3 linked regions of the Homo sapiens genome follow. The protein of the gene in region 2 interacts with the protein of the main gene of each other region in a biochemical or structural test. Each region holds a gene or a part of one and is shown on either strand. Other genes may lie near its edges.

The links. The genes of interacting proteins can lie anywhere in the genome.
Region 1: the proteins of PI3 (region 2) and KRT1 form a complex in vitro, tested with the Homo sapiens proteins (one study listed by BioGRID).
Region 3: the proteins of PI3 (region 2) and LORICRIN form a complex in vitro, tested with the Homo sapiens proteins (one study listed by BioGRID).

Annotation. Positions count from the first base shown.
Region 1 is NC_000012.12:52,673,538-52,678,390, forward strand, and holds the end of KRT1 (keratin, type II cytoskeletal 1), read right to left. Parts: intron 4,687-4,853; coding exon 4,626-4,686; intron 4,209-4,625; coding exon 4,113-4,208; intron 3,944-4,112; coding exon 3,779-3,943; intron 3,648-3,778; coding exon 3,522-3,647; intron 2,959-3,521; coding exon 2,738-2,958; intron 2,208-2,737; coding exon 2,173-2,207; intron 2,081-2,172; coding exon 1,656-2,080; 3' UTR 1,199-1,655; downstream 1-1,198. UniProt on the Homo sapiens protein: May regulate the activity of kinases such as PKC and SRC via binding to integrin beta-1 (ITB1) and the receptor of activated protein C kinase 1 (RACK1). In complex with C1QBP is a high affinity receptor for kininogen-1/HMWK.
Region 2 is NC_000020.11:45,168,982-45,177,632, reverse strand, and holds PI3 (elafin preproprotein), read right to left. Parts: upstream 2,732-8,651; 5' UTR 2,711-2,731; coding exon 2,632-2,710; intron 1,773-2,631; coding exon 1,498-1,772; 3' UTR 1,497-1,497; intron 1,264-1,496; 3' UTR 1,089-1,263; downstream 1-1,088. UniProt on the Homo sapiens protein: Neutrophil and pancreatic elastase-specific inhibitor of skin. It may prevent elastase-mediated tissue proteolysis.
Region 3 is NC_000001.11:153,254,401-153,263,322, forward strand, and holds LORICRIN (loricrin), read left to right. Parts: upstream 1-5,286; 5' UTR 5,287-5,333; intron 5,334-6,526; 5' UTR 6,527-6,549; coding exon 6,550-7,488; 3' UTR 7,489-7,724; downstream 7,725-8,922.

The sequences.
Region 1 (4,853 bases), on a different chromosome or scaffold from region 2:
AGGAAAGCATGCAGCTGGCCAAGTGATGGAGTAGACAAGGCACACTGTGTTTCCCGGTCAGGACACAGAAAGACAGCAGGGGACACTGGGGTCCCTACAGAAGGGATAACTGAGAAGGAAGAATAGAGCTCACCTGAGTTGTGTTTGCATAATACATGTGTGATCTATCCTCTCCTTATTCCATTAGCCCTGTGGGACTCTGGAGCTAAGAAGACTTTTCCTAATTGGAAACTAAGGAAATTGATCCTCAGAGAAGTTGACTGCTTTTTTCACGTTCAGAGAACCATTACAAAAATTTTGGTAACTTGCTTCTTTGAGCAAGCATCTACTGAGCTGTATGGAGTCCCACAAGCAATGTTACGTCATCATCATCATCATCATCATCATCACCATTATCATTAAAACTGGCACTTATTTAGTGCTTGCTGTGTGCTCAGCCCTGTGTATTCATCTTATTCAATCCTCACACTATTCCCACAAGGAAGGCATTATCATCCCCAATTTAGACATACTAAAACTGAGGTGCAGAGATGTCTGTAACTTGCACTGTATTACAGAACTAGTAAATGGTGATGGTAAGATTCAAACCCAAGCATATCTGAGTTCAACTGTCCATGCTTCTGGCCACTATGCTATCCTGTTGTACAACTTCACAAGTATGAGCTATGTGTCAACAAGGGAACTTCTTAGATTATGCAGAGCTTTGGGTGGTGGCACAAAAAGAGAAGGGAAATGGAATATCCAACTCTCTATTACCACTCTTAGTTCTTGAACTCCCCAGGCCAAAGTCTGTATTCTGGCTCCAGTAACTGCTGACCCTATATTACTCATGCCCCTCCTTACTGGCTGTTCCACGTGAAGAATTACTTTTTCATGCAATACTTTCCCTTCTTCTCAATGCCACACCTCTTCCTCCCAACCTGCTTGCTCACTGCCCTTTTCAAGAAAGCCTTCTCAAATGAACAAAACCTGTCACCCGGTCTCTCCATTTCTCCATGACATCCCCACCATCTGGGAAAGTGCTTGCTCTCTCTGTGATTCCAGTCTGGTGAAATGTTGCCTGGTTGGCCTCTGCATTTTTCTCATGTTTGTGTGCATGACTTTCCCATATGCCATGTGGCTCTAGTGTCTTCTTTTACCTCACAAAACACCCATCCAGGTTAGACAGTGCCGTAAACAAGGGCGATCGAGACATGGAGAATTTCAAATGCAGTTTATTGCAGCAAAACAAGGAAATGGGGAGTTTAAGACCTCTCCACAAAAGAAAAACAACTTGCTTACACCTTATGTACAAAACCAAAACAGCACAGAGATAAGATGCTAAGGAGCTGTCCACACCCTGGGTCTAACTGGTCCTACTCTGGCTGGCTTAAGGAGGTGCTTTGAAATGTCATGTGGGTGGTGGTCACTGCTGAACTGTTTCTCAGGGAAAGAACAAAGCAGGGTCATAGCCAGGGGACTGAGATTGCCACTGATCTGAAAACTTCATTGGGAAACAGCAGAAAAGAAAGAGCTGGGGGAATAGGATGAGCTAGTGTAACTAACCATAGCTCTTTTCTCCGGTAAGGCTGGGACAAATCGACCTCGGTCTTGCCAAGCATATTTGTTAGTGATGCTGGGGGAGAACTAGAGCTAATGAAACAGAGGGCATCTCTTTATCTGGTTACTCCGGAATAAGTGGTAGAAACAAACTTCACGCTGGAACTGCCACCAGAGGACTTGACACCCCCAGAGCTGGATCCCCGGCCTCCTATGGAGCCTCCAGAGCTCCCGCCGCCAGAGCCCCGGCCGCCAGAGCTGCCGCCGCCGCCGCCTCCAGAGCCACCTCTGTAGCCCCCACTGCTGCTTCCGGAGCCGTAGCTGCCATGGCCGCCGCCGCCACCTCCAGAGCCATAGCTGCCACCTCCGGAGCCGTAGCTGCTACCTCCGGAGCCATAGCTGCCACGGCCGCCGCCGCCGCCACCTCCAGAACCATAGCTACCACCTCCGGAGCCATAGCTGCTACCTCCAGAGCCGTAGCCACCGCCGCCACCTCCTCGGCTGCCACCTCCACTGATGGTGGTGTGGCTTGTGCTCACAGCTGCAAGAGGAAGCTCAGTTATTTTCAACCTCAACTCCGTTTCCAGCCCAACAAAGCCTGCACATGCCCCTGAGAAATCGACTTGTACTTACACACACTCACGTTCGGGGCACATTCTCCAGACATCCTGTAGGAGAAAATAAGAAAATTCCTCAGGACACTCCAGCTTCCCAAACCGCTTCCCCATTCCCCGCTCCACCACCTTGAAGACTTTCCCCATCTGGGTCTTCTCCAATGCACTTAATCTGAAACTTAATCCAATCCCCTCTGGCCTCCCAGACCTGTCATTTTTTCTCAGCAAGAGTACAAACACGGAGAAATTCCCATATAAACGAGACAAGAGCCTTGCAGCCAATGAAGGCCCCCTCTAAAGATGCCGACTTTAGGCCAGCTGCCATCTGAGGCAGCCCAGATAAAGAATAATTTGCTCCACCTCAAAGCTCTTTCTAGATATGTTACAGCCCTAGAAGAAAAAAATAAACAGCTTGGGACTCCAGCTCCCAAAGTAAAACTAGGTCCTTCCTCCTGCTCCGTGTACTTTTCATTTCCCCATACCCAGCACAAGCTGCAATCAGATGGCTGCATCTTCAACAACAATCAGCTTGCAAGGAAGGAAGACCATGAGAAGAGGTTCGACTCCCAGCGTCCCTTCCTCACCTGCTTTCTTCTCCCTCCAGGAGGGTCCTGTAGGTGGCAATCTCCAGATCCAGGGCCAGCTTTGTGTTCATCAGCTCCTGGTAGTCGCGCAGCAGGCGGGCCAGGTCTTCCTTGGCCTGCTGCAGGGCATCCTCCAGGTCATTCAGCTTGTTCTTGGCATCCTTGAGGGCATTCTCGCCACGCTGCTCTGCATCACTGATGGACTGCTGCAAGTTGGAGATCTGAAAAAGAATATGACACCCTCTCATAATATGCATTCCCCACTAGGCCTCCTCATCCCAATTGGTCTCCCCACTCCAGTGAGGCCAATAATGAGTCCAACAGAACCACTTGGCCTTAAGTCATCTCACACCCACCTCCAGATAACACATCACCATGTTGACTTCCTTAAAAGACCTTAGGGATAACTCAACAGCCTCTCTTGGCCCTGAGTCAAGGCTCCTACAACCCTTACAGACTTGACATTCTTCTAAACACCTACTCTAAAACCTCCTGGCTGCCCTTCCTCTCACTCCCCAACTCTTAAGTCCACTTTGGGTCATAGGCTAGATCACTCACATTGACCATCCCATCTTTCTCTACTAGGCCATTCTCACAGATTTCCCTAAAGAGAACCCAGCATGATGGCTGCATTCTGGAAACTAGCATAGTCACAAAAGGAACCAGGGATAATAATGTAGCCTTGGGATGAATTGCAAGATTCAAAACTAGGAAAGCACTCGCCCTTTACCTGAGGGTTACCCCCATTCCATACAGCTGAGTGGTAGAAGGAGAAAGCACATACCTGCTTCTTGACATTGTCGATTTCAGATCTAAGTCTCTGGATCACACGATTCAGCTCAGAAATTTCTATCTTTGAATTTCTCACACTATCCCCATGTCTGCCAGCAGTGATCTGCAGCTCTTCATACTAAAGATGGTAGATAGCGTTTGTTAAATGTAGGCAGAACTCAGCATGGCACAGGCACACATACATGAGATAACACAGGATAGCAAGACAAGCCATTTCAGGGAAACTGGCTAGGCTTTCAGCCCACTCACCTTGCTCTGGTACAAGGACTCGGCCTCAGCTTTGCTCTTCTGGGCTATATCCTCGTACTGGGCCTTGACCTCAGCAATGATGCTGTCCAGGTCGAGACTGCGGTTGTTGTCCATAGAGAGGATGACATTAGTTTCACTGATTTGAGTCTGCATCTGAGACAACTCCTGCAAGACATAATAGGTTAGTGACTCTTACAGCACTAAAACAAAAAACAACTTAGACAGAGAAAGCAGTCAGAAAATAAAAGATAAATATCTATTCTTCTGAATCGTTGTGGGTTCAGGCTTAAAAACTCTCCATTTAGATAAACTTGGTTGAAACTGGAAGACTTACTGCTTGGTAGAGTGCTGTAAGGAAATCAATTTCCTGCTGCAAGTTGTCAAGTTTGGCCTGAAGGTCCACCTTGGTCATATAAGCACCATCCACATCCTAGAGGAACAAGGGACATCATGAAGGCACATTCTCTCCAGGGCAGGTCCCTCTCATTACCTGTGAGGGGATTCTCCAAGCAAAAAAAGGAGCTTTGGGTCTACTCCACTCCTTTTTGCCCCAGGTAAATCACAGTTCCCTAACTGTCCCACCCCCGGATAGCACCATCAAGGGAGTGTGCCTGGCTTGCTGAGAATCTGCCACTCCACTTACTATGTAAGGTGCTGGGAAATATGGAGAAGCCAAGTGCCTGGATCAGTCCAGGTCCATGATGATGTGAAAATATAGCCCCACTCCATATACTCCCCAGGTCTACTACCTGGCTCTCCATATCATGGCTGCTTTCTGCTTAGTAATTGGAGACCCTCTTCCCTTATTTATTTCAAATGTGAGTTCCGTCCTACAGAATTTGCTTACCTTCTTGATGGTCACAAATTCATTCTCTGCATTTGTCCGCTTGTTGATTTCATCCTCATACCTGCAGGAAAGCAGAAACAATTAGGAGATTCAGAGGTGGTAAGACCTGAAGTCCAGCATTCTAAACTAAAGGTGGCATTGCCTATCACTGCCTTTCTATTATGAACCTAGGACATATTGGCCACTACTTTCTACTGAGCAATAAAACCACTAGACTATTTCCATCTC
Region 2 (8,651 bases):
AAGTGGTGCAGGGATCCACATTGTCTCACCCCAAGCCTCTGCTCCCCATGTCATCTCAGAGCAAGAACCCAATACACAAAGAAGAGCTGTTTCATATCCCAGAGTGGCAGGATTAGACCTTCCTTTGCAGAATAATTATACCTTACCCCCTCAACTGAAATAGACCTCTGAGGCCTGGAAGGGGGACATACATTTGCCAGAGGTCACCCAATACGTGGGGAGGCAAAGCCAGTGCTGAGATCACCTGACTGTCAAGCCTGTGCTTATTCCCCTTCACCCAGGCTGCTCCCCTCCTGGGGGCTGTGGCCTTCTCTGAGAGTTTCCTTGTGCAATCGCAGTGGGACGAGTGGGTCAACAGGAGAGCCATGAGGTTGCTCATATTCCTGCCCCTTTCTCCACTACTCAAGTCTGCCCTGCCCCCAACATGTATGTCTCCAGAGAATGCTATTCACCCAAACCTCTGACACCATAGTATGAAGGACTTAGTGTATCTTGCCTCCTCATTCACATCTTAAAACAGAAATCTGGAAGAGAATATTGCTTAACCTAAAGGAATGCTACTTCATGGAGGAATCTCAGGCATAAACCAGTGAAATTCTAAAGAGCAGGAGTTTCGCAGCATCTGTAACATCATCCTTTCTATGTGGTGTTGAAAAGATATAGATTCCTGGGAAACATTAATGAGAAGGAAGTGGGGAGCTGTAGTTGCAGCCATAAGGGTTGGCTGGTCACACTGGTAAGGCCGACAGTAGCCAGGTCAGGACTGATGGTGGATTGGAAAAAAAAGACCTGCTTATGGTTTATGTAATGTTTATTTATTTTTTGTGTTTTGTGTTTTTCCTGGTCCTTGGCCAAAGGCAAGATTTCCATATTTCCATTTCCTGGTGAAAAGGAGCTGGCAGCACTGGGGCTGATTATTGGATTTGTAATATGAAGCCCTAGCAATGTGCCTCCTGTTTCCTCCCCCCGCCCTGCTCTCTTTCACCATGGGACCGTTTCCCCTCTTCACTGGAGAGAAGAAGTCCCAATTCTACATCCATTTCCCCAAAGCATCCAGGAGCCCAGAAGTCATAGGAACCAGAAACAAGTGGAGCAGAAGGAACTCTTTATTGGAAAGTGGATGAGAGAGGCAGCTCCAGCCGTGGGCATCCTGAATGGGAGGAAGAATGGACAGTGTGGGAAGGGGAAGGGCAGCAGGGACTTAGGACCAGATGGGGCCTGTAGCTCTGGGGACGGCACAGGTGCAGCAAGGACCGGCTCCCTCTGTGGAAGAGAAGAGTATCAGAGGTGAGAGTCAGCACATCAAAGCACTCAGAGGCAGTGAGGAAGACAGATCATCCTTCTAGGCACTCTGGTTATAGCCTCTCAGACCCCTCAGTCTCCCAGTCTTTCTGTCACCTCCCACAACCTCCCTCCCACCAACCTGGGATGCTTCCCCACCGCTCAGCCTTCTTTTGTGTCTTCAGGGGTCTCCTCGTTCTCCAGCTAGTGCTCACCTCACTGGGGAACGAAACAGGCCATCCCGCAAGAGCCTTCACAGCACTTCTTGATTCCTGGGCAGTCAGTATCTTTCAAGCAGCGGTTAGGGGGATTCAACATGGCGCACCGGATCAAGATAATGGGGCAGGAGCCAGGCTTAGTGGAGACTGGACCTTTGACTGGCTCTTGCGCTTTGACTTTATCTTGACCTTTAACTGAAACTTGTCCTTTAACGGGATCTTGTCCATTGAATGGAACACGGCCTTTGACAGTGTCTTGACCTTTAACAGGAACTGTTAAAAGAAGAAACGAGCCCACATTTATACCCAGTAAGCCTCTGCTTCAGCTGCCATGTCTTTCCTCTGGGTCTGGGTCCATCCACTGCTTACTGCAGCATCCTCAAACCATGGCCTGAGTAGGGAAGGTACACCTCTGGGAGCTACACTCTTGGAAGGCTCTTCCTTTTTTGGGGTGGTCTACTGGACCAGAGTTCCCTTGAGTATTTGTTTCTTCCCCCTTCCTCCACTCCAAGTCTCTCAGGAGCAGTGGTCAGACTGGGGTGACACCCAGCAGTGAAGAGGACACATTGTCATTTGTTAGGAAGTGCATTGGAGTAGGAAAGAACCCTGAGCCACATACTAGGAGACTTGAGCCCCATCCTGGCTCTGGGAATTACCTTGGCAATTGCTCACTCATTTCTACATTTTTGGTTCCCTCCTTATAAAATGGGGGTCCTCAAACAACATGATTCCTGAAGGCTTGTTGTTTCTTAACCTCCTTTTAGAGTACTGATTACTCCAGTGCTTTTATGGGGCAGAGAAACGGGGGACTGTGTCCACACCCAAGGTTTAAAATCCTGGAGTTCATTATTTTATTGCACATTCTGCACAGGTATTGACATCTGAGGCCAAGGCCACATACCAACATTACTTCCACAAACAGTCCTGATATCTCAGTCACTGAGGTGGAAAGCACGTGGAGTCCACCAGCCAAAGTCCTATTTTTTCTGAATATGATGGCAAAGAACAGAAAGCTGAAATCTGGGCTCCAGTGCTGCCTACTGCTTCAGAAGTGCTCCCTGTCCTGGCCCAGGGTGTCCCAGAGGGTCTCCCCTTAGTCCAACCCAGCCCAGCAGGTCACCTGTTCACTCACCTCCCGTGACAGCTGCCTCTAGAACCAGCGTCCCAGCGATGAGGAACACCACCACGATCAAGAAGCTGCTGGCCCTCATGGTGTCAGGAAGGTGTTTGGCTAAGAGCTAAGGCCATACCAATCTTTATGCAGTCCAGCTTGGCCTGGCTCCAGGGGCGGGTCTGTGGTATTTACAAGGGATAATTCCTTAGCTGTATTGGGAAATATCCACCCCATTCTGGGAGGGACCTGGGGGCTTTCCCTCAGGATTATTCACAGGAAGAACTAATGGACATTACATCACATCATCTCTGATTGTCCCAAGAGTTTTCCTACTTTCTCACAGAGTAGAAGTGCTGGCTCACTTATTAGGTAACATTACAATGAAATTCTTCATGTTTTGAAATACAGTGAGACCCAAGAAGAGAAAGGAATCACCGAAGGTTATTCAGCAAGTCACTGGTAGATCCAGTCTTGATTACAAAACCAAGGTGTTTCTCCATTATGCTCTGGTGCTACAAACCCCACCCAGATCTACTTTATCATTTTACCACTCCCAGCATCAAACTGGGCATTTCCTTCCTTCTTCCCTGGTCCTGCAAAAAACTCTGTAAGACAAATTTGCCTTGAATACATAATGACTAATTATTGCACTTTGCTGTTTCAGAGACGGCCTTTCAGATGCATCAAGAAAGTAATTGGAAGGTGGAATTCTAGGTCTGAAGAGGGATGATGCCCTTGAAATCACAGTGGTAGGGAGAAAATAATCAGAAAGTAGTAGAAAACATGTATCATGTATACATTGGACATCTACAGTGTGTGTGTCCAGCATGCCTCCCCACTTCTTTGAACAGCACCCTGTTTCTTGTGAAGAATTGTTGTCTCTTTGAACCATCAACTTGTGAGTCTAATGGGGACTGCTAATCATGAAAGCCTGACCCCTGACCACAGGTAGGGGTGTGTGTGTGTGTGTGTGTGTGTGAGTGTGTGTGTGTGTGTTGTGTGTGAGACTTGGTCTGGTCTATTAACATATTTTATTTGAATGAGTAATGAAAGGGGAAAACGGGGGTTCCTTCTTCTGGAAAAGGTGATATATATGAACCAGGGAATTCCAGAAGTGGTTATCTAAGTCTGGGGGTGGAGATCAATTGTCTGAGAAAAACGACTCTAATACACTGAGACAAGGAGAGAAGTGATGGTGAGAGAAGATTCAGATGACACAGCCAGGTTTCCCTCCTTTACCTTGAGAGCAGTTCTTCACACACCCTTCTCATGGTTGGGTTATGAGGCAATAAATTAGCCCTCTGCTTCAGCTAGTCTGACTTACTATTCTGTCATTGTTACCAAAAGTTCTGAGTAATAGAAATGAATATCCTGAAGTTGGGTATTGTCAGGGACAGAATCTGAGTTAAGAAAGTCACTGAGTTGAGGTGGAGTTAAGGCAGGGAAGGTAACAAACTAATTATTGGACACTAATTCAGCTGGTGAAATCCCCACCCCTTGTCGATTTAGACTCTGACCACATGCCCACCAAGCCTGAAACTGAGGGAGACATAAACGAATGTCAGACTGTGGAAGCCTTTGGCTACCTTACACAAAAGCTCATTGTACAATAAGCCATACAAACAAATAAAAAGCTCACAGAAAATACCTATATTCTTTAAAGAATAGCATTAAAATGAGCTGCCAGGTAAAGGAGGAGAATATTTGCTATATCTATGCTCCATGCCTCTCCTCAGTTGCTTCATTCTCCTTCCTCCCCAGAGATAACTGCTTCCTAAGATTTTATGGTAATTAGCCCTTGCTTTCCTTTATAGTTATGCCACTTCTGTCTGTATTCTGAAATATATATTCAGTTTAGTATACTTTTTCAATTTGTATGTAAATGAAATCTAAGGTATAGTGTTCATATGTCCTGCTTATGTTGCTCAACATTATATTTTTGAGAGTCATCCATTTTGAAGTCTACACCTGTAGTTCATCATTTTCACTGCTGTACAGTATTCTATGAAAAATACCAAAAATGTTATATATTCATTCTACTGTCAATATACATTGGATATTTCTAGGTTTTAGCTATTATAGTGTTGCTATGAATATTCTTGTACATATCTCTTGCAGAACATAGGTATGCATTTATTTTGGATATATGGTTAGGAATGGAATTGCTGGATCACAGAGTACAGATCACAGAGTATAGATACATCCAGCTGTCATAAATACTGCAATCAATTTTCCAACATCATTGTACCAATTCACACTGCTATCAGCAATGTGTGAGCATTCCATTTGCTCCATAATCTCACCAATGCCTCATATGATTTGCCTTTTCATTAGCCATTCAGGTGGACATCTTGTGGGATTTCCTGTGATTTGAATTTACACTTTCCTAATAACTGGTGAAGCTGACCCATTTTTAATACTCCTTTTTTTTTTTTTTTTTTTTTTGAGATGGAATTTCGCTCTTGTCACCCAGGCTGGAGTTCAATGGCACAATCTCAGCTCACTGCAACCTCCACCTCCCAGGTTCAAGTGATTCTCTTGCCTCAGCCTCCCAAGTAGCTGGGATTACAGGCACATGCCACCATGCCCAGCTAATTTTTATATTTTGCAGTTTCACCATGTTGGTCAGGCTTGTCTCGAACCGCTGACCTCAGATGATGCACCTGCCTTGGCCTCCCAAAGTGCTAGGATTACAGACATGAGCCACTGCACCCGGCCCATTTTTAATATTTCTATTATCCATTTGGCTATCCTCTTTTGTGAAGTGCCAATTCAAGTATCTTACCTTTTATTTACTTATTTATTTAATTTCAACTTTTATTTTAGATTTGAATGGGTTGTTTATCTTTTCTTATTGATTTGTAGTAGAAAAGAAACTTTTATGCATTACTAATGAGAGTCTATATTGGTGAAACATTTAAAAACAGTTTGACATCAGCTAGTAAAATTGAATGTGTACACAATCTATAATTCAGCAATTGCACTCCTAAAGATTTAATTAAGGAAAATATTTCCACATGTTTACCAAGAAACATGCACAATAATGTTCATAAAAGTACTGTTTTTAACAATAACATACTGGAAACAGTCCATGTTACCAATACTAAAATACTGGATAAATATGTCATGACATATTAATGCATAAATATGTCATGACATATTAATGCAAGGAAGTATTATACAATTATGAAAATAACTGAATTACAGCCATGCACAATATGACCATAATTAAAATAATGTTGAATAAACAACACAAGTCCACAGTGACAATATTTAGAATTACCCACTTGTCATAAAACTCAAATGAAGGAGAACTGGGAAATATATTGCCTAGGCATATTTACATATGAAGCAAAGCTCAAAAAGGGATACATAAAAAATGAAAAAACTATAAAAATGACATACAAGATAGTGGCTAACTCTGGAAACGAGAGAAGAAAACATTCTGGATGGGTGAGAAGGACACGGGTTGATTTAAGTTGTTGGTTATTAGTAATGTTCTAGTTCTTTGATTGCTTGGAGAGAGAGAGAGAGAGAGAAAGCTGCAGAGCGAATCATTTATAGACTACCTTAGCTTTCAATAAACCCACATTGCTACCCTCGCAAGTTGTTTCCAATATTTTGCCATTACAAACTATACCACATGTGGCCTTTCTTAGCTTGCTTTCTTGTGAACCAGATTCCCAGAAGTATATTTGCTTATACAAAGGTGAAATGCATTTGAAATTTTGATAATATTGCCATATTTCCCTTGATAGGGGTTGTACCATATTGTAATCCCACCAGTAGTGGATAAACTTGCCTGCTGTTTCCATCAAGCCTCATGAACAGACTGTGTGTCTAATTTTGGGGTTTTATTTTTAACTTTTATTTTAGTTTCAGGGGTACATGTGCAGGTTTGTTGTATAGGTAAATTTCATGTCATGGGGGGGTTCGTGTGCAGAAGTATTTCATCACCAGGTAATCAGCATAGTACTCGATTCGTGTTTTGATCCTCACGCTCCTCCCATTCTCTACCCTCAAGTAGGCCCTAGTGTCCATTGTTCCCTTCTTTGTGTCCATATGTACTCAATGTTCAGTTTTCATTTATACGTGAGAAAATGTGGTATTTTCTTTTCTGTTCTTGTGAAAGTTTGCTTAGGATAATGGCCTCCAGCTCCATCCATGTTGCTGCAAAGGACATGATCTTGTTCTTTTTTATGACTCGTAGTATTCTATGGTGTTTACATACCACATTTTCTTTATCCAGTCTATCATTGATGAGCAATTAGGTTGATTCTATGTCTTTGATACTGTGAATAGTTCTGTGATTCACATACTACATGGATGTGTCTTTATGATAGAATGATTTATATTCCTTTGGGTATATAACCATTAATGGAATATCTTGGGTTGAATGGTAATTCTGTTTTAAGTTCTTTGAGAAATTGCCATACTGCTTTCCATGCTGGCTGAACTAATTTACATTCCTACCAGCAGTGTATAAATGTTCCCTTTTCTCTACAACCTTGACAGCATATGTTATGTTATAACGACTGGTGTGAGATGCTATCTCAATTACTGTTTGGATTTTCATTTCTCTAATGATCTGTGATGTTGAGCATTTTTTCATTTGTTTGTTGGCAACATGTATGTTTTCTTTTGAGAAGTTTCTGTTCATGTCCTTTGCCCACTTTCTAATGGGGTTGTCTGTTTTTTGCTTGTTAACTGGTTTAAGTTCCTTATAGATTCTGGATATTAGACCTTTGTTGGACACATAGCTCACAAATATTTTCTTCTATTCTGTAGGTTGTTGGTTTACTGTGCTGATAGTTTCTTTTGCTGTGCGGAAGCTTTTTAGTTTAACTAGGTCCTATTTGTCAAGTTTTGTTTTTGTTGCTATTGCTTTTGGCATCTTCATCATGAAATATTTACCAAGTTCTACGTCCAGAATCATATTTCCTAGGTTACCTTGCAGGGTTTTATAGTTTTATGTTTTACATTTAAGTCTTTAATACATCTTGAGTAGATTTTTGTATATGGTTTAAGGAAGGGGTACAATTTCAGTCTTCTGCATATGGCTAGCCAGTTATTCCAGAATCATTTATTTAATAGGAAGTCCCTTCCCCCATTGTTTCTTTTTTTGTTGATTTTGTTGAAGATTAGATAGTTGTAGGTTTGCAGCATTAATTATTTCTGGGCTCTGTAATGTTCCATTGTTCTAGGTATCTGTTTTTGTACCAGTACCATGCAGTTTTGGTTACTGCAGCCTTGAAGTATAGTTTGCAGTCAAGCAATGTGTCACCTCCCGCTTTGTTCTTTTTGCTTAGGATTGACTCAGCTATTCAGGCTCTTTTTTGGTTCCATATAAATTTTAAAATAGTTTTTTCTACTTTTGTGAAGAATGTCATTGGTAGTTTCATAGGAATAGAATTGAATCTGTAAATTGTTTTGGGTAGTATGGCCATTTTAACAATATTGATTCTTCCTAACCATGAGCATAGGAATGTTTTTCCATTTATTTGTGTCATCTCTTATTTCTTTGAGTAGTGGTTTGTAATTCTTGTTGTAAAGATGTTTCACTTCCTGGGTTAACTATATTCCTAGGAATTTTTTTCTTATTTGGCTATTGTTAATGAGATTGCATTTCTGATTTATCTCAGCTTAGATTTGTTGGTATATAGGAATGCTGCTGACTTTTGTGCATTAATTTTGTATCCTGAAACTTTTCTGAAGTGGTTTATCAGATCAAGAAGCTTTTAGACAGAAACTATGGGGTTTTCTAGGTATAGAATCATATTGCCTGCAAACAGGGATAGTTTAACTTCCTCTCTTCCTATTTGGAAACTTCTTATTTCTTTCTCTTTCCTGATTCCTCTAGCTAGGACTTCCAGTGCTATGTTGAATAGGAGAGGTGAGAGAGGGAATCCTTGTCTTGTTCTGTTATTCAAGGGAAATGCTTCCAGCTTTTGCCCATTTACTATTATCCTGGCTGTAGGATTTTCAGAAATGACTCATTACTTTCAAGTATGTTCCTTCAATGCCTAGTTTGTGGAGGG
Region 3 (8,922 bases), on a different chromosome or scaffold from region 2:
CTGCTTCCTCATCCTGAACTGAAGATAACATTACTGGGCACACAAAACTGTTAGGAGGATTGAACCTATGTGACAGTGGTCCATAAACTGAAGAGTCTGTCCACAGAGGAAGTGTCCAAGCCCAGGCAAGCATGATCCCTGGATGCACTGCTAACCCTGTGTGCATCTATAAGCTGTTTGAAAAGGTCTGAACAACTCATCTGTGGTCCCCACCCTCAGCAAAATGATGGGCTCCAGGAGCACCCAAAAGAGGACCAAGTAAGAGTCAACACTGCCTGATAACACCCCAGGGGGCTATAAGTGCTCTTTAAATCCTAAGATGCAGAGTTAAGAACTAATAGGGAGCCTTCCTTCAAGGACAATTATAACTTGAAAAAAGAAACAAGTCAAAGCGATGTGTCATTAGCAGACCGTAACTAGTACAATTGTTCCTTAAGGCCTTGGAAAGGGAAAGTGGTGAGGGAGATGGAACCAGTGGGTGTGATGAATCCAGGGAAGCTTCCTGGAGAGGGAACACCAGTAGCCACGAACCACTGCAGAGCTCTCCTTCTCCTACCCACCTCTAAGCAGTTCTCCCCATGTAACACCGAGGATCAGCCACCCCTTCAAACTGTTGGCCCAGAAGGGCAGTAGAAAGGAGGAAAATGGCAGCCCAGGAGGTACCTGGAGTTCTGTGACACTTCCTGGGCCAGGACTGTGAGAGAAAACTGTTCCCATTCCAAGTCAACAGTACAAAGGGCTTCCAAGCACTACTCCTGTCCTGCCAAAGCTCCCAAGCCCCTGTCCTGTGTTCATTTTATTCTTTACAGCCACCTGCTGCCCCTTTAACCTGTTAGATAAGTAGTCAGCACTCAGTCATGAGAACCCATGTGTGTAGCTCTGGATACTTCAAGGTTGTGATGAGCATGCTTCCATCCAACTGGGGCTCACCAAGCTCAAGAAATGAAATCTCAGACTGGGGCCCAGGAGCCAGGTGCCTCTACTCAGAGAAGCAGCCTTCTCAGAGTAGTTTGCAGCTGCTCTTTCCTAAATCCCCCCAACATAGCTTGTTAAGATGGCCAAGCTGTGCATCACAATGCGGGAGGCCCTCACACTGTCTCCTCTACCTGCTTCTCTCTTGCTCTGAAGATGCCTGTAGCAGGAAGATGTGAGCTTCCCACAAAGATAAGCTAAGCTGAGATGCAGAAAGAACAAATCTCCAACTTTTTTGTGATTTATGAATCAGAAGCTGGGTTGTCTCCAAAGGATGCATCTGTGATTGTGGATAAGCCCCAATGTGTCCTTAACACCCTAGACTGCCACATCTTTCTGAAGAATCACCACCCTTCACACACACACACACACACACACACACACACACACACACACTTCCTATACGGGGCCTTCCCATCAGATAGATATTGTGAGGGTGGTCAGGGAAGCAGGCTAAAATTCCACTAGCCCAGTGTTAGCCCAGTGTCACTTCTATAGCTGGCCTTGGATCCCCTGCACAAGGCTTGTTCATTCTGCACAGTGGCTAGGTTTAATCTGTAGTTCCATGCTGAAACCCTCCACTCCTCATCATCTGACAAGATCATCTCTCAACCGCAGTCAGTCAATAGGTCTCAAGAGTTCCTTCAATTCCACTGGGATTTACTGAGCACCTATTAATGCCCAGCACCATGCCAGGCACTGTGTAGCATCTGCTTTAAGGACCATCCCCTCTAAGGATACAAGTATAGGCAAGAACCATGTCCTAATCTGTCAAACTGCAGAAGTCAAATGTGCTATCAAGCACACCTTGCAGGGTTAGGTGTCTAAAGGCTATAAACCTTAAAAATCTGAACTGCCAAGTCTTACAAAACCCCAAATACCTATGTGTCATTCTACAATTCTACAAAGTCCCATTATTTCCTCACTGATATGATAAAAGGTGATAATCAGTTGCTGCCCACACAGATATCCCATTAGGACTACTGCTTCTGCTCCAGAAAGATGAAATGAGAAACCAGGTTCATATATTCGTATATCAGGCAAGGTTAACTCAGGGCTGAAAGCCACAAGATCTGGTACTCAGTATCATGTCACATCAACCTCTTCTGCATGTTAACGAAATATTTATACTAGTTACAAGTTATATATATATATATATATCTCTACAGATATATCTCTATATATATGTAACTCTATATATATATAACTTGTAACTAGTACACATATTTAGTTAACATGCAGAAGAGGCTGATGTGACATAGTTATATATACATATATGACTATATATAGTCATATATGTATATAAAACTATATATAGTCATATATGTATATAAAACTATATATAGTCATATATGTATATAAAACTATAGTCACATATGTATATAAAACTATATACAGTTATGTATGTATGTAAAACTATATACAGTTATGTATGTATGTAAAACTATATACAGTTATGTATGTATGTAAAACTATATACAGTTATGTATGTATGTAAAACTATATACAGTTATGTATGTATGTAAAACTATATACAGTTATGTATGTATGTAAAACTATATACAGTTATGTATGTATGTAAAACTATATACAGTTATGTATGTATGTAAAACTATATATAGTTAAATATGTATATCCTTTCTTATTAAATGCTATATAGGGTGGCAGAGGCAGGCATGGGGCACCATCCCCACCCGCGACTCTACCAAAAAGACCCATGCATAGCTTTGGAAAGCCTTCTGGCTCTTTGATGCTTAACATGGTGCCCAGTACATTTGTTTTGGCTGGATTAACAAATAAAGAATTAGCATCTTAAAATTAATAGAAAAAAAAACCCTATATTTCTTAGAAGAAAATGAACCCCCCAAAGCCAACATGGACAATTTGAAGATTAGTCATTTTGGGTCAACTGTACTTTAGGTTCCCGTTTTGTTTATTTTTTGAGACAGGGTCTCACTCTGTCACCCAGGCTGGAGGGCAATGGTGCAATCTTGGCGCACTGCAGCCTTGACCTCCCAGGCAGAAGCGATCCTCCCATCACAGCCTCCTGAGTAGCTGGGACTACGGGCACATGCCACCATGCCCAATTAATTTTGTTTATTTTTTTGTAGAGATGAGGTCTCACTATGTTACCCAGGCTGGTCTCAAACTCTTGGGCCCAAGCGATTCTCCCACCTCAGCCTCCAGAGTAGATGGCACTACAGGCGCATGGCACCACACCTCGTTAATTTTTGTATTTTTTGTAGAGACAGGGTCTTGCCATGTTGTGCAGGCTGGTCTCAAACTCCTGGGCTCAAGCAATCCTCTCACCTTGGCCTCCCAAAGTGCTAGAATTACAGGCATGAGCCACTGTGCCCGGCCTAGTTCCCAAATTTTAGAATTCCATGGAGAAGTAATATCTCCCTCAGAAAAAAGTGGTAATCATTACACCATAGCCAAATTTTCATTTTGACATGGCAGGACATAAAAGAAACAACTACAGCCTCATGTCACCACATCTTTTAAAGGAAGAGGTAGGAAGGCCATGATTTCAGAATTGAAGACTTTCTTTCCCAAGAATACCCTGCTGACGTCCTTTTACTTACACTTTTGCTAAGGACTGGTGAACACATAGCAATGGGCCAACAAGGGACCACACATATCAGTACTGGGAACCGTCGTCCACACGTGCTCCTCTTTCCAATGTGGCCCAGCTAAATAAAACTGTTCTTTCTTATACCCACAGCAATCACTAATCGCGGCCTGTTTCCCTCCAAATTCTCCACACTGCCTCAACTTCAAGCAGAGAAACTTGCCTTCTCCAACAGATCCTGTCTTCTCCCTACTGGGTCTCCTCTAAGGAGGAGAGCACCTGAGTTCCTCTTGGGTTCACCTGGGTTTATGCTGTCCAAACTGAAACTAGTGCCACAAGTTTCTGATGGCCACAGTCTAATCAGGATCATCTGGATCATTAAAAGTGCACTATAATTAAGAATTTATTATTGGAGCTGTCATTTCAAAACATAACTGGGCAGAACAAAGTTTGACTGTGGTATCTTAAACAATACCAATTGACTTCCGGTTATGAAAGAAGCAGCATCCTGTTCTGCATGCGCAGAGGTGATGCTACTGGTCCAGAGTCAACAAGAAAGTTTTGAGTTATTCTCCTAGGAGAAGAATTGGACTTGCCCAATCCCTCCATGGACTCCTTTCTGGCCTTGGTATCCAAGGGAAGGCCAGGTTGGAAGTAAGGATGTGCTGTTATATGAGAAAACAACAAAAAAGACAGCATCACCTTCTACACTTAACATAACTATTCTCCCTTCACATGCCTGTGAAATAGGTACTACTATTTTTATTTGATAGACAAGGTAACTGAGGGTCAAAAAGCTTGATCATTCCACAGTCAATAAGTACTTACTGAGTGCCTCCCATGTGCAGGTACTGCACTAAGAGCTATGACTCTGCCCAAGGTGACACAGCTGGCAAGTAGCAAAGGGAGCACCCAATCTGTCACCTAATCTCAAGTCTATCCCATTCAATGACTGCCCCTCAGGCTAAGGTCAGTGTTTTGCCACACAACACCACAGGACAACAGAGCCAAAGAGCCTTTGTGGGATCACATGGTCCATCTCTTTAGTTTGCTCTGCTGCAAGGAAAGTCAGTATTGATTACCCTTCTCAGACTGTCTCAAATGCCTGCTGTCTCTGGGGATGAATCAAAGTAGCTTCCCACGTCACATTAGTTACAGCACTGTCTATGGTGTGCAGTCCAGAGCTGGGTGCTGGGGACTCATGCCTCCAGTGGGCAGGACAGAAACACCCCAGCAAAACACACATGAAATCCTGGGAGATAAACTTTTGCAAAGGAGTAACGGGTTCTAAAGTTTTGAGGATTTTTAGAGTAGCAGGACCAGAAGTCAAACAGTAGGATTTAGAAGGTCCTACTCCTTGGATAAAGCACTGAGATCTTCAGTTTGACTCTCTTAGGGCACCTCAAGACTCTGGGACCTATTCCTCAAGCACAGCCCTGTGGTCACCTGGTATGCATCCTGTGCCAGAGGTTTTGGAAACAATGTCTGCCATCCACTCTGACTGGGTGACCCCACTGATGAGCCTGCCACACTGTTGCATCAGAGAAGGGGCCAGTCACACACCAGGCTGCCCATCTCAAGAATGCCAAAACCTTCATGAATGGGCCATCCTGTGCCTGCAATCACAGGGAGGTGGGGCCGACAGCCACGGGTCACGTAACTGAGGCCAAACACAAGAAGCTGGCCTGGATCAATGAGTCAGGGAGAGCTCTATATATAACCTCAGGAGATCAGTGCTCCTCACATTGCCAGCATCTTCTCTCCTCACTCACCCTTCCTGGTGCTTTGGGTAAGTGTGGTTCTACTGACTCTCTCATTTTCCCAGCTGGTCTTGCCCAGGCCTGACTAGATTAGATGGACCAGGGCCTCTTTCCCCTTTGGGAGCTATAGGACCTCTGCCTTCCCAAAAGCACTCACATTTAGAGGGCGGTCAGGAAAGGAGCAGGGGATGAGCTGCTGCCATGCAGATGGTGTTTCTGGTCTTCTGGCCAGAATGTAAACTCCACAAAGACAAGACTATCTCCTGCCTCTCTGGCACCCGCATAGGGGCAGGCATGGTGCCGGGCACAGAAGGACTCTGCAGAGGCTGTCCAAGGCAGCCTGTGCACAGGCTGAGCAGACCTTGTGAACCTGTCAGGAGGAGAGGCTGAGCCACTCTCAAGAGAGTAGGGAGAATGATCCAAAAAAGTTGCAGATGGGAGGGATTTCAGGTGCCACAGAAATCCAATTGCTGTTTTACAGAGTTAGAAGTTCTGAGAGGGAAATACAACTTCCTACTAGTCAAAGTCCCTTCTACCAAACTTGGACTTGAGAAAATCATGGAAGAGATGGCTAATAGCTTCTGGTCGGGGATGTTGGTCCAAAGGACCACCAGGGTCCTTCCCCTGTTTCCAGGCAGGGCCACAGCAGAGCCTGTCTTTTCTAGTGACTAGCCCTTGGTTCATGGCCTAGCTCAGTGGGACAGACCAAGAGTTTGAACTAAGAGCTTCTGCAGAGGATGGAGTGCAACAGCCCTCAATAGAATGAAGTCCGACAAACCTCTCTCTGTTGTGCTGGGAATGGGTAAAATCTCCTATCCTAGGTAGAGGTTTGTGGTAGTTTTCTATTTGCACTCAGAGAATCAGTGTTGAGATTGGAAGAGGCCTGAAAGATGAAGTGTTCAAACCCTTTCATTTAACAGGAAATGAGAAAGAGGCGGGCGTGTGGGTGATCTGCCCTCAAATCACACAACAGTGGTCAGAGGCAGAGCTGGGAGAAAGAATGGGCACTGCTAACTGGGCTGTTTAAAGCATAATGAAGGCTTTCTGCAGGGGAATGAGGAACTCAACTTTTCCAAAAGCAGCAATCATAAGAAACCCCGCTGAGGGCTCTCCGGGCACCTGAAGGAGCCCTGGGAGGATGGCGATGTTGCCTATGGATGCAGCTGCCTCCGTAAGTATCCTCTTGCAGCTGGTCCAGCGATGCTCTCTTCTCCCCTTCCAGGCTCTCCTTCCTTCTCAGACAAGATGTCTTATCAGAAAAAGCAGCCCACCCCTCAGCCCCCAGTGGACTGCGTGAAGACCTCTGGCGGCGGTGGCGGTGGCGGCGGCAGCGGCGGTGGTGGCTGCGGCTTCTTCGGCGGCGGCGGCTCAGGGGGCGGTAGCAGCGGTTCTGGCTGCGGCTACTCCGGCGGCGGTGGCTACTCTGGCGGCGGCTGCGGCGGGGGCTCCTCCGGCGGCGGGGGCGGGGGCGGCATTGGAGGCTGCGGAGGGGGCTCCGGTGGGAGCGTCAAGTACTCCGGAGGCGGCGGCTCCTCCGGCGGGGGCTCTGGCTGTTTCTCCAGCGGTGGGGGCGGCTCCGGCTGCTTCTCCTCCGGTGGCGGCGGCTCCTCCGGGGGCGGCTCCGGCTGCTTCTCCAGCGGTGGGGGCGGCTCCTCCGGGGGCGGCTCCGGCTGCTTCTCCTCCGGCGGCGGCGGCTTCTCGGGCCAGGCGGTCCAGTGCCAGAGCTACGGAGGCGTCTCTAGCGGCGGCTCCTCCGGGGGCGGCTCCGGCTGCTTCTCCAGCGGCGGGGGCGGCGGCTCTGTCTGCGGCTACTCTGGCGGCGGCTCTGGCTGCGGCGGAGGCTCCTCTGGCGGCAGCGGCTCCGGCTACGTCTCCTCGCAGCAGGTCACTCAGACCTCGTGCGCGCCCCAGCCGAGTTACGGAGGGGGGTCGTCCGGCGGCGGCGGCAGCGGCGGAAGCGGCTGCTTCTCCAGCGGCGGGGGCGGCGGGAGCTCCGGCTGCGGCGGCGGCTCCTCCGGGATTGGCAGCGGCTGCATCATCAGTGGCGGGGGCTCCGTCTGCGGAGGTGGTTCCTCTGGAGGCGGCGGCGGCGGCTCCTCCGTGGGTGGCTCCGGGAGTGGCAAGGGCGTCCCGATCTGCCACCAGACCCAGCAGAAGCAGGCGCCTACCTGGCCGTCCAAATAGATCCCCCAGGGTACCACGGAGGCGAAGGAGTTGGAGGTGTTTTCCAGGGGCACCGATGGGCTTAGAGCTCTCATGATGCTACCCGAGGTTTGCAAATCCTTCATGTCTTAACCTACCTGGAAGAAGCCATTGAGCTCTCCGGCTGCATCTAGTTCTGCTGTTTAGCCTCTTTGGTTTCTGTACAACTACCTCCCAACCCCAGTGCCTCAGTCAATAAATTTGCAAATTCATGAGAATTTTTAGGTCTCCAAGAGTATTTGTAGTGTTCAAGTTCATCCATTCCATTCCATTCTTCTCCTTTCCTGCATTCGCTCATTCACACTTACATTCATTTTACAAATGCACGGACTCTATTGGCGGAAAGGTGAGTGGATAGATGGGAGTCACCAGGAGAGGGAGGAATGGCTGGCAAACGAAGGTCAAACATATGAACATTCTAGTGTACGGCTTAAAATCATGACGTGATCCCAAAACACAAAGATCCTGAGGAGAGACTTCAGTAAACACCTCCCTGTGGATTGAGTAGCTACTGTGGGTCTCCTTACTGAACTCTGTTTTTTAAAGACAGGCTGCCCTGGAAAGACGCTGTCTCTCACAGTCCAAAGCCAATTCTGCAAGGTCTGAAAGCTGGGTGGCTGCACATTAGGAGCACCAGCTCATGCTACTCAGACTCACGGAGAAATAAAAAGCATATCAGATGTTTACGGGCCCCTAGGGTGAGCAAGACCACTTTAGTAGGTACCCGTAGGGAGAGGAGGTAGTAGGGGAGCTGTTTCCTGCTCTCTCACTCTCTCTCTCGTTTTTTTTTTTTTAATTTCAATCAGCTTTCTCGGGTTGAATGTTTCCTGCTCTCTTGAAGGAACTTTACCTAACTTAGGAAGATGCAGCATACATATACGAGATGTAAAAGCTTGGCACCAGAAAGAGGTCATGGAAAACACAAGAGCTTCCAATTAACAAGGAAGAAGCGACAGTTGCTCCAAGGGATGTATTAATTGCAGAGCCCTCAAAAGAGATGTAGAACATCAGCCTGGCCAGGGACTTTCCAGGTTCTGTTTCATATCCTGATTTTACCAGCTCTAGTTAAATGCCAATTTACTGATTTACTCAAGAAAAACTCCTGCTACGTCAAAAAGCCAAAGTACCCTTCCTACTCAATCACTGCTGGGGGGAAAAAAAGTCTTCCTCCTCAACTCTTCCATTTAGGATCACTACCATGCATCATTTTACATCGGTAATTCATGGAGATCAGAATAAATAGCAGTCTTAAAGATCCAGGAGCCCAACCACTGCATTACTTTCATGTTTTTTAACAAATGAAAGTCAGACTTTCAGTTCTGGACAAAATGAAGTAGATGTATTTCTTACTATCGCTCTTATGAAGTAGAACTAAAATCTCTGGGCATAATATATAAAACAAACATAAGAAGACTT